Linked DNA regions of Homo sapiens. The protein of the gene in region 2 purifies or fractionates together with the protein of the main gene of each other region. This does not show direct contact. Each region holds a gene or a part of one and is shown on either strand. Other genes may lie near its edges.

The links.
Region 1: the proteins of TARS2 (region 2) and CETN1 purify together in Homo sapiens (co-immunoprecipitation; one large-scale study listed by IntAct). This does not show direct contact.
Region 3: the proteins of TARS2 (region 2) and KLK8 purify together in Homo sapiens (co-immunoprecipitation; one large-scale study listed by IntAct). This does not show direct contact.

Annotation. Positions count from the first base shown.
Region 1 is NC_000018.10:578,877-582,624, forward strand, and holds CETN1 (centrin-1), read left to right. Parts: upstream 1-1,503; 5' UTR 1,504-1,532; coding exon 1,533-2,051; 3' UTR 2,052-3,238; downstream 3,239-3,748. UniProt on the Homo sapiens protein: Plays a fundamental role in microtubule-organizing center structure and function. Plays a role in sperm cilia formation.
Region 2 is NC_000001.11:150,493,867-150,497,514, reverse strand, and holds part of TARS2 (threonine--tRNA ligase, mitochondrial), read right to left. Parts: intron 1,034-3,648; coding exon 887-1,033; intron 706-886; coding exon 607-705; intron 1-606. UniProt on the Homo sapiens protein: Catalyzes the attachment of threonine to tRNA(Thr) in a two-step reaction: threonine is first activated by ATP to form Thr-AMP and then transferred to the acceptor end of tRNA(Thr). Also edits incorrectly charged tRNA(Thr) via its editing domain.
Region 3 is NC_000019.10:50,999,504-51,003,251, forward strand, and holds the start of KLK8 (kallikrein-8 isoform 1 preproprotein), read right to left. Parts: upstream 2,102-3,748; 5' UTR 2,029-2,101; intron 1,673-2,028; 5' UTR 1,665-1,672; coding exon 1,595-1,664; intron 1,216-1,594; coding exon of another isoform or gene 1,081-1,215; coding exon 921-1,080; intron 756-920; coding exon 493-755; intron 1-492. Other genes in the region: KLK9 (kallikrein-9 precursor), read right to left, coding at 3,608-3,748. UniProt on the Homo sapiens protein: Serine protease which is capable of degrading a number of proteins such as casein, fibrinogen, kininogen, fibronectin and collagen type IV. Also cleaves L1CAM in response to increased neural activity.

The DNA.
Region 1 (3,748 bases), on a different chromosome or scaffold from region 2:
CTGCACCCAGCCATAAAACTCTTTAACACAAACTCTTCAAAGTGACATCTTTTGTAACCTTCATAGGTTACAAAAGGTATTGATATATTAATAGATTGAGATTTGATTGCGGGGGGGCGGGGCAGGGGGAGAATGCTAAAAAAATAAGTCAGCTTTCTTTTCTGTAACTATTTAAAAGAATGCAAAGTAATTCTACAGGCAATTCCTTGGTGGGCTTATTTGGTAATTTTTTTTTTCTTTTCCATTTTCCTCTTGCTCTTTGGTTTGTAGGAGAACCGCTTTATTCCCAGGAGGCAATTTTGAGTCCCAACATGTCCTGCATCATCTCCTGTGCCCATTGCCAAAGGAAGGCGACCAGAGCGTGGGTTTCAGCACAGCTCTGATTGGATGATAAGCAAGGAGAGTAATGTGCTGCTAGGAGGTTAGAGAAAAGAAAATACTAGAATATACCAGAATGTAGTATTTCCACTTCCCTCCCTCCAAATCAAAAGCCTCATGAATGAAATTATGACCATTATTCAAGTGCAATTATACTGAGTATGTAAAATGGAAACACTGAAAGTAAATCATACATTTGGATATTACATTTCATATTTGAGAACATGCCAGAAACATTGTATTATTGTTGAGTGTAATGTCAGGAGACAAACTTCTACGCATTTTATACATAAATTTTTCCATTTTCTCTGTTTCCCATTTATGTCAAGTTGAACACATGGTATGACTTTTAATATTCTCTCTTCCTTCTCCTTCCCCACATTGAATGTCAAGTGATCACACTCAATCTTGATTATCCTAAATTTACCCTTAGGACCTGTCACCTCATTGGGTGTTGCCGCTAGAACAAGAGGGTTTTTTAAATGGTATAAAAAGGAGAGGCCCGGCTTGGTAGCTCATGCCTGTAATTCTAGCACTTTGGGAGGCTGGGGCGGGAAATCCCTTGATCCCAGGAGTTTCAGACCAGCCTGGGCAACATGGTGAGACTCTGTCTCTATAAAAAAAAAAATTTTTTTTTTTAATTTAGCTGGGTGTGGTGGCATGCCCTGTAGTCTCAGCTACTATGGAGGCTGAGGTGGGAGGATCACTTGATCCTGGAAGGTGGAGGCTGCAGTAAGCTGAGTGGCACCAGTGCACTCCTGTCAAAAGAGAGAGAGGAGAGAGAGAGAGAGAGAGAGGAAGAGTCCCTAAAGAAACCTATAAAACTGGGGTCTTATGGATGCTAGCACATATCTTGGAAAGAACTGCCAGCGCCAGTGGATTACAGAAGACAACTGTGGCTACAGGCTGTTCTTGCCAGCTCAGGCGTCAACTCGTGGAAACCGGTTAATGACCCGAGGGGACAGCGGATTCTCGCCTAAGCAAGATCCCGCAGATGGGAGGGCGTAGGAAGAGGTTCCCCGGGCCGGCTCCAGGCCCCAGCGGGCGTGGGCGTTGGCAGTGAGCGAGGGGTGGTCCCGCGCCGCGCCGGCGGGGGGCGCCCGAATGAGAGCGCGGGGCGGTGCCGTTGGGACCACGGCGGCCAGAGCGGCAGGATGGCTTCCGGCTTCAAGAAGCCCAGCGCTGCCTCCACCGGCCAAAAGAGAAAGGTGGCACCTAAGCCCGAGCTCACTGAGGATCAGAAGCAAGAAGTTCGGGAAGCATTTGACCTCTTCGACGTGGACGGAAGTGGGACCATCGACGCGAAGGAGCTGAAGGTGGCCATGAGAGCGCTGGGCTTCGAACCCAGGAAGGAAGAGATGAAGAAAATGATCTCCGAGGTGGACAGGGAAGGCACGGGGAAGATCAGCTTCAATGACTTCCTGGCCGTGATGACGCAGAAGATGTCCGAGAAGGACACCAAAGAAGAAATCCTGAAGGCCTTCAGGCTCTTTGATGACGATGAGACCGGGAAGATCTCGTTCAAAAACCTGAAGCGTGTGGCCAACGAGCTGGGGGAGAACCTCACGGATGAGGAGCTGCAGGAGATGATCGACGAAGCTGATCGGGATGGGGACGGCGAAGTGAACGAGGAGGAGTTCCTTCGGATCATGAAGAAGACCAGCCTTTACTGAAGTCGGTTCAGAAGCTAAAGTGACTCTCTGGGTTGCCTGCTTCCATTTTGTGAAACCTTAGAGGACAGCGGCTGCCTGTCCCTTCTTCACCCCCTCACCCCCATAATTTGTCTAGATCTATTTCCATATCTCTAGTTCAATAATAGAATTTGAAAGATGCTTGTAATGTGAGTTTTGGGTTTTAATTCTCAAGAGTCAACCTGGAGCACATGAGGTTAAACAAAGGGCCCTGAAGTTTGAGTGCGCCCTCCATTTGCCCTGTGCTGAACTTGCTGTTCATCTGTTGATCTGGAGGCAGGACAGCTTCTGGGACACACAAAAATGTGGTTCCCTTTGTCACTTCTTTGGTGGTCTTAAATTATCTTGCTTCATATATCATTCCTTAAATTCCAGTCATTGTTCCAGCATAATGAGATGGAATCTGCCAGTAGATTTGCCTAGCCTGTCCACTTAGCTGAATACCAGTTTGAAGGAAAACAGGGTGGCCACTTACAAACTTACGGAGCTCAGGACAGATAATCTTATAAAGAATAGACTTGCTTGGGTGGTAGTACGTTGTGCAATTTTGACTATTCACTGGCTTTATACCTGCAAATGATTCTTCGTTCATGTGTAAATTGTCCACCATGGGTTTATCTAGGGCTAGTATGTATACCTGGGCTACAGAATAAAAATAAAATCTAATACTGGCCCAAGCAAAGTATAATTTGCTTAAGAGGTTACGCTAACAAACGATTTTGAGTAAATATTTACAAATGTAGGATCTTAGTTTAGGAAATTATAACAAATACCTTAATATAACATTTTAAGCTACTTATAGTCCTTGGAAATAGCAACAAATATCTTAGTTATTGGACTATTATAACCTTAGTCATCTTATTACTGCTTGATTATGAGACACTCTCCCTGCTAATCCTTAGAACATCTTGGTTCTTGGTACTTGACTTTTAGCCCCTCTGACATATAGTTGATGTCAGAGTGTCTGGCATTTCAGTAGTGCTCTATTTTACAAATCCCAGTAAACTGCTCCACTGTGGCTTGTTTATGTGTTAATACTGCTTGTTTTCTGTTATAAATTATTTTTTGCTTTGGAGTAAGATATCATCATTTTGCATAGCTACAAATCTGAAGTTAAAGAAAATTTTAAAAATGTAATTGTGGGAAAATAACAAATAGATCTGCTGAGATGGAGGCTTTGACTAATGTTTTAATAACAGGCAACAAAACAAAGAGGCAGGATATTTTGGTCACAACTAAACCTAAATTAAATCCTCATACAAAGCCCCATTAAGATAAATGCTCAAATTCTGGGAACATTTCACTTGCTTTGCCAGCAATTTTACCCTTCAGAGGGTGTGGATCTAATCAGGGGAACAAACTACCCTGGGCTTAATTCTCATTAACAGGGACTAATTTGTCAAAGCGGCAGTACTAGCTGAAGTGATGGGTATGGAAGCATTCACTGTGAGGATTTTGCTGAGGTGCCTGGCACAGGGTAGGGGAACTCACCCAGGCTGCAAGATGCTAACAGTTCAGGTTCAAGGTCTTAGTGTGGACTAAGGTGCAGTCAGGATGGGAACAGGTGCAACTTGGGCCAACATCAGTATGAAGGGCCTGATCTGAGGGCAGGGGAAGGAGGGGGCATTCTGGGAAGCAAGAGTTCCTGGTATCCTGTTGACCAGAGTCTTGGCCCAAGG
Region 2 (3,648 bases):
CAGACATGGAAGGTCAGAGTAACTGGAAGGAAAGCAGGTAGGGTGTCAGCTGTGTGATCTTCCTGGGCCCTCAGGCCATGCTGATTGCAACCACAACCTATTAAATACCAGGTCCCATCTCTATGCTCCCCGACTGCAGACCACACAATTGTAGTATTAAAGGTCACCAGCACTTTCAATATTTATGTTTATGATTCCAAACCAGCCCCCCCACCTTTTTTTTTCTCTTCAAGACGGAGTCTCACTGTATCACACAGGCTGGAGTGCAGTGGCTCAATCTCAGTTCACTGCAACCTCCCCTTCCTGGGTTCAAGGGATTCTCCTGCCTCAGCCTCCCCAGTAGCTGGGACTACAGGCGCTGCCACCACACTGGCTAATTTTTTGTATTTATTTTAGTAGAGACAGGGTTTTGCCATGTTGGCCAGGCTGGTCTCGAACTCCTGACCTCAGGTGATCTGCACGGCTCAGCCTCCGAAAGTGCTAGGATTATAGATGTGAGCCACTGTGCCCGGCCCCAACCCCCATCTTTTAACACAAACACCTTAGCTTCTTCTAGTCCCTCAGCCCCTCCCTGGTCTTCTTTCCTCTAGACCTGGGTCCCCTTACCCTGATAAACGCCACTAGTGCATTATACACCCTTGTCCCTCGTGGCAGGAAGAAGCAGCTCCCAGGGCTCAGTTCATGGAAGAAGAAGAGCTCCTGTTCCTGGGGTCAGGAATAGCAATATTGGGTCACCTCAAGGGCAAGGAGGTGGCTTTGGAACTCAGAACAACTGACGGAGCTGCTCAGTCTGTGTGACTGAATCTGCTCCCAATTTCATAATCAGGTTCTGTCATCTCTCTCCAACCCTTATCACCATCCCTCCCTATCTTCCCAATTCCTGTACCTTCCCAATGCGCCGGTGGTCCCGCAATTCTGCTTCCTCCCTCCATGCTTCCCAGACCCTCAGCAATTCTGTTGTGGGGAAGGAAATCCCTGACACTCTCTGCAGTGTCTCTGGGGCCCCTGAAGACCTCCATAAGGATGATGAGTTCTGTGTGAGGACATAGGGGATCAAAGGAAAGATGAGGACTGAAGGCCCCCACCTTTTTCAAGACTCAAATGATACTCTCAGTGTTAAGTGTCACAGGTATGCCTCTTGACAACAATCCCACCAGTAGGATGAACACCTCCATCCTCTAGACACCATTCTTCTAGATTAAAGTGTTGAAATTGCCTGACTCTTAATTCCTACATACAACCTGGTCAGGCCTAACCTTACCTTGCCATCTCTTTTTCTCCCCATTCTCATTACCCCTTTACTTAGTTCCTTCCCATTCTAATCAATGACTGCTTAGAGGAATAACCATAAGCTCTGGTCAAATGTCAGTCTATTCCTCCATTTATCAATATCCTATACAGCTGCTAGAAAAGTCAGTCTTCTATACCATATCCCATTCCTGGCCACATGAAATCCAAAAGCCTCTGCCTGCTCTCTCCTTTAACAGTACTAATGAGCCGGGCGCGGTGGCTCACGCCTGTAATCCCAGCACTTTGGGAGGCCGAGGCGGGCGGATCACGAGGTCAGGAGATCGAGACCATCCTGGCTAACATGGTGAAACCCCGTCTCTACTAAAAATACAAAAAAATTAACTGGGTGTGGTGGTGGGTGCCTGTAGTCGCAGCTACTCGGGAGGCTGAGGCAGGACAATGGCATGAACCCGGAAGGTGGAGCTAGCAGTGAGTCGCGATCGCACCACTGCACTCCAGCCTGGGCGACAGAGCAAGACTCCATCTCAAAAAATAACAAACAAACAAACAAACAAAAAAGTACTAATGAGAGGCCGGGCGCAGTGGCTCACACCTGTAATCCCAGCACTTTGGGGGGCTGAGGTGGGTGGATCACAAGGTCAAGAGTTCAAGACCAGCCTGACCAACATGGTGAAACCTTGTCTGTACTAAAAATACAAAAATTAGCCAGGTGTGGTGGCACGTGCCTGTAACCCAGCTACTCAGGAGGCTGAGGCAGGAGAATTGCTTGAACCTGGCAGGCAGAGGTTGCAGTGAGCCGAGATCAGGCCACTGCACTCCAGCCTGGGCAACAGAGCAAGACTCTGTCTCAAAAAAATAAAAATGAAATAAAATAAAACTGTTAAACAGTACTAATGAGAAACAGTCTATACGTGTGTGTGTGTGTGTATATACATCTGTCACCCAGGCTGGAGTGCAGTGGCGCGATCTCGGCTCACTGCAAGCTCCGCCTCCCAGGTTCACGCCATTCTCCTGCCTCAGCCTCCCAAGTAGCTGGGACTACAGGCCACCACCACCACACTCGACTAATTTTTTTTTTCTTTTTTTGAGACGGAGTCTCGCTGTCGCCCAGGCTGGAGTGCAGTGGCGTGATCTTGGCTCACTGCAGGCTCCACCCCCCAGGGTTCACGCCATTCTCCTGCCTCAGCCTCCCAAGTAGCTGGGACTACAGGCGCCCGCCACCTCGCCCAGCTAATTTTTTGTATTTTTAGTAGACAGGGTTTCACCGTGTTAGCCAGGATGGTCTCGATCTCCTGACCTCATGATCCGCCTGCCTCAGCCTCCCAAAGTGATGGGATTACAGGCGTGAGCCACTGCGCCCGGCCACACCTGGCTAATTTTTTGTATTTTTAGTAGAGACGGGGTTTCACGGTGTTAGCCAGGATGGTCTCGATCTCTGGACCTCGTGATTCACTCGCCTCAGCCTCCCAAAGTGTTAGGATTACAGGCGTGAGCCACCACGCCCAGCCCCTATATGTATATTTTTTGAAACAGAGTCTCACTCTGTTGCCCAGGCTGGAGTGCAGTGGTGCAATCTTGGCTCACTGCAACCTCTGCCTCCCAGTTCAAGCAATTCTCCTGCCTCAGCCTCCCGAGTAGCTGGGACTACAGGTGCATGCCACCACGCCCAGCTAATTTTTTATTTTTAGTAGTGACGAGGTTTCACCATGTTGGCCAGGCTGGTCTTGAACTCCTGAGCTCAAGTGATCCGCCCAACTTGGCCTCCCAAAGTGTTGGGATTACACGTGTGAACCACCGCACCTGGCCGACAGTCTGTATTTTACAGCACTTTTTAACTTTTCCTTTTTCCTGAATTAGTTGGTTTTCATTATCTTTTTTTTTTTTTTTTTTTTTGAGATGTTGTCTCGCTCCGTGGCCCAGGCTGGAATGCAGTGGCACAATCTCAGCTCACTGCAACCTCTGCCTCCTGGCAGAGTTCAAGTGACTCTCCTGCCTCAGCCTTTTTTGTAGCTGGGATTACAGGCGTAGGCCAGCACACCCAGCTAATTTGTGTATTTTTAGTAGAGACAGGGTTTCACCATGTTGGCCAGGCTGGTCTCGAACTCCTGACCTCAAGTGATCCGCCTGCCTCACCCTCCCCAAAGTGCTGGGATTACAGGTGTGAGCCACCATGCCTGGCCTGGTTTTCATTATCTTTATGAGGTGAATTTACTGGTAGGACAAAAAGGAATTAATAGCCTCATTTTATAGATGGGGAAAATAAGTAAGATTTACCCAAGGCCACCGCGCCATGGGGTTTTGCCATGTTGGCCAGGCTGATCTCAAGTGATCCACCCACCTTGGCCTCCCAAAGTGCTGGGATTATAGGCATGAGCCACCATGCCCAGTCTAAGTTCA
Region 3 (3,748 bases), on a different chromosome or scaffold from region 2:
AGGAGGCAGAGATTGTAGTGAGCTGAGATTGTGCCACTGCACTCCAGCCTGGGCGATTGAGTGAAACTGTGTCCCCCTGCAAAAAAAAAAAAAAAAAAAAAAAAAAAAAAAAAAAAAAAAAGGAGGGAGGTGGGGGAGAAGGTGCTTAGGAGCCTGTTTTCCTGGGCCTCTGAGAAGTCCAAATATCCCAAGTGTGTTAAGATTATATAAAATCCTATACAACCAAAGGTCCCATAGGGTAGTGCTCTCCGCCATACAGGATGGGCTTTTCTGGCCCTGCTTAACAATCTGCTAGTTGGTTCTTTCTCTCACCACTCTTGTTAGTAGTCAGATCTTCGAGGCTTCTCATATGACTCCTGCTTGTGAATCTCAACATCATGATCACTTTCCCTTCTTTGTCTCCCTCTGGGGGACCAAGCTTTGCCAATAGCTTGGGTTCCACTGGGCCAACCAGCTCCTCCTCTCCCTCCCATTAGTGGACAAGCCCACTACCTCGGGGACTGGTGACAGTGCCCCAGCCTGAGACGGTGCACTTCTGGCCAGGCTGGGTGCAATGATCTGCCAGGCTGATGGGCTTCACTTTGGACCCCAGGGATGCCTGGTCACGCAGTTGAAGAAGCATCAGATCATGGTTGTGGTCCTCCACATCGCTGCTGTTGTAGCAGGGGTGTGGGATGGACTGAACCACAGGTATTTCTTGCTCTGGGCCATCTTTATTCTGTAGGCTGTGGTCTCCCAGGCGTACTGTGTATTTCCTGTAATGGTGGGGATAGTTTGGGACCCAGGCAGGGGTATTGCCCCCAGCCCCCTCCTCCTTCAGACCCAGGAGTCCAGTCCTCAGCTCTCTCCTTCCTGAGTCGAAACCCCAGCCCCCTCTTTCCTTAAGCCCCAGCTGACCTCTGCCCCCATCATCCACTCACGGTTTTTTACAGTGGGCAGCTGTAAGGACCCAGTTGCCACCTACAAGGACACCGCCACAGAGTAGTTGCTGGCCCTGGAACAAGGCCGCCTGCCAAGGCTGCGAATGGGGTTGGCACTCATGACCCCCCAGCACCTTGTCCTCCTGTGCCCTGGAGTGTCCTGCAGCAGGAGGGAGAGGGTTGGATCGCCACCCTCTGGGGCAGTGCGAGGGCTGGGAAGGCCACTGTGGGTTCAAATGGACACACGGCAAGTTCTCCGCATACAACTTAGTGAGGAGGTCCAGGCTTCCACACGCTGCCACACGGGGACACTCATTTCAGTCCATGTGTCATCATACAAGAGTCACACACCCAAGAATGCCCCCACATGCTTCCACATGAGTCTACAGGCCCCGAGTACTCCCAGGTGAATCTATGCCCCCAAGCAAGCAGCCCCCAAAGGCTGTAGCTATTCAGACAATTTACAGCATCACGGAACCTACTCCTACCTGCTGCTACCTGTTTCTTGCCTCTGTCCACCCTGAGGAAAGCCCACAGAGGCTCCTGCACCGTATCGCACTCTTCACATCCGTGCACACGCACCCACATAACCCCCGCGGCATTCCCACAGACTCCCCAGCGCCACTGCTGCCTTCAGATCCCTCCCCTCCGGAGGCCTCCGCAACCCTCCTCACCTGCCCAGGCTCCCCCCAGCAAGAGCAGGAACATCCACGTCTTGGCCGCACGAGGTCGGGGGCGTCCCATGGTGAGGTCTGGGAAATGGAGAGGGCGGGGCCGGTAAACAGGAAGGAGGAGCCTGAGCTCCCAGTTCTGGATTTGGGCACTGGGGAGGCAGCCGAGAGTATCTGGGGCTGTTCTGGGCTTCTCTGGAGGAAGGAGGAGGCTGGGGGACTGGATTCCTACATTCCAAGGGAGGGGGGAGTCCTCGATGTCTGGGTCTGAGGGGACAGGGAGCTGGGAGCTGGGACTCCTAAATTAGGGAGAGGAGGAAGCCGGGGTCCAGACTGCTGGATCTCGACAGAGAAGGGCATCTGAGGCTGGGGTCCTGGAATCTGGAGAAGGAGGGTCCGGGGCCTGATGTCTGTATCTGAGTACCTCTGCACCTCACCTTCCAGAATCCAGGGGCGGGGTCACCTACTGATTCGGACCCAGTGGAGGAGGCCCCAGTACTTCAGTTCTCTGCCTGGTACACGATTCTGGAGCCTTTTAACTGGGAATCTCCACCTCCTGCTCCTCCTCCTTCTCCTCCTGCACTAGAGCCTGGGGAGCTTCTGGGAACTGGAACACTGGGTGTGAGTGAGAAGGGGCGGAGGGGATTGAACGTGAAATCTTGAGGGAGGAGGGGCTGGAATCTCAGACTCCTGAGGCTAGGGAGAGGAGGGACTCGGTGCTGAGACTCTACGATCTGAAACATAAAGGGCTGGGGGCCAAGATTTTAGTTCTGAGAGGGGAGGAGGCTGGGGGCCTGGATTCCTGGGTCTGAGGGAGGAGAGGCTGGGGGCCTGGACTCCTAAATCTAAGGGAGGAGGGACTGGGACCTGGGATTTAGGTCTGACCGAGGAGGGGCTGGGGGCCCAGACTCCTGGGTCTGAGGGAGGAGGGGGCTGCTAGGGGCCAGGACTCCTGGGTCTGAGGGAGGAGGGGCTAGGGGCCTGGATTCCTGGGTGTGAGGGAGGAGAGAGCTGGGGGCTGAATTCTAAGTACTTTTAAAAGGAGAAGCTTGGAACCTGATCTTTTGTGGGAGGAGGGGGCTGCTGCCAGTAACCGGGAACCGAAGAAAGGCAGGTCTTCTAGGGTCAGAAACCAGAGGGTGGATCAGGCCCCGCCCGCTGTCCCCTGAGAGGTCCGGGATCTGGGAGGGCAGGTTTGGGAGGCACTGTGACCTGGTTTCCCCTTCCCCTGGAGGCGGCAAGACCAACCCAAGCAGAACCCAGGAGTCTTGCTGCAATAGGGCTGATGGACAGAGACTTTAGGCAAAACTTACTAGGGGTTTAAGGGGGAGTTGCAAGGCGGTACCGGTTCCCTCATCTGCCCTTCACCGCCCACCCGTTTGCTCTCCACTCATCTCACAGCTCAGGCAGAAAGAAGGTGAGGTTTCCCGCGTTTACTGAAAAATCATCCGTTGCATTGGCTCTAAAGGTATCCAGACCCTCCCTCAATTTCCCCCCAGGTCTCCGCCAGGATTCAAACCCAGCACACGCCCAGGACGGGGCCACAAGGGGCTGAGCTCTACACCGCCCGAGCTCCACGTGGGCGGAGCTACTGCGCCCCTGACATCACGAGGGGCGAGATCTCTGGTGAAGGAGGCGGGGCCACAAGGGGTGGAGTCCCGAGGGGAAGTCCCACTGGGCAAAGTTCCGAGGGGCGGAGCTATTTTGTGTAAGTGGTTCCTTGGGGCGGAGCCACAGGCTGTGCTGTTCCAAGAAGGAGGTGATGGCTGTCGGTGACGTCATAGAGACGGGCTCTGAAGGGCGTGTCCCTGCTCCGTTCCGAGGGGGCGCGACTGTGTCTTGCTTGACCTCGTGAGGGGGCGGAGCCTCAGGGGCGGAGTCTTAGTGTCCAGAGGGGAGTCAGGGCAGCTGGAGGTCCAGGGCGGGAACCATTGAGGCTGGGACCCTACGAGAACCCCCTACCCCGTGCCCTTCGGCCTCTCTTGGTCTTCCAAGGTGCCCCCGTGGCGCGCGGGCTCAGTTCTCCATGATTTCTTGGATCCAGTCAAGGTAGTGGCATACGCTGGTGTAGACTGCGGGGCGCCGGGGTCTGGAGCAGGGCTCAGCACCCCCAGACACCACGCCTGCCAAGGTTCCATTGCAAACCAGGGGGCCCCC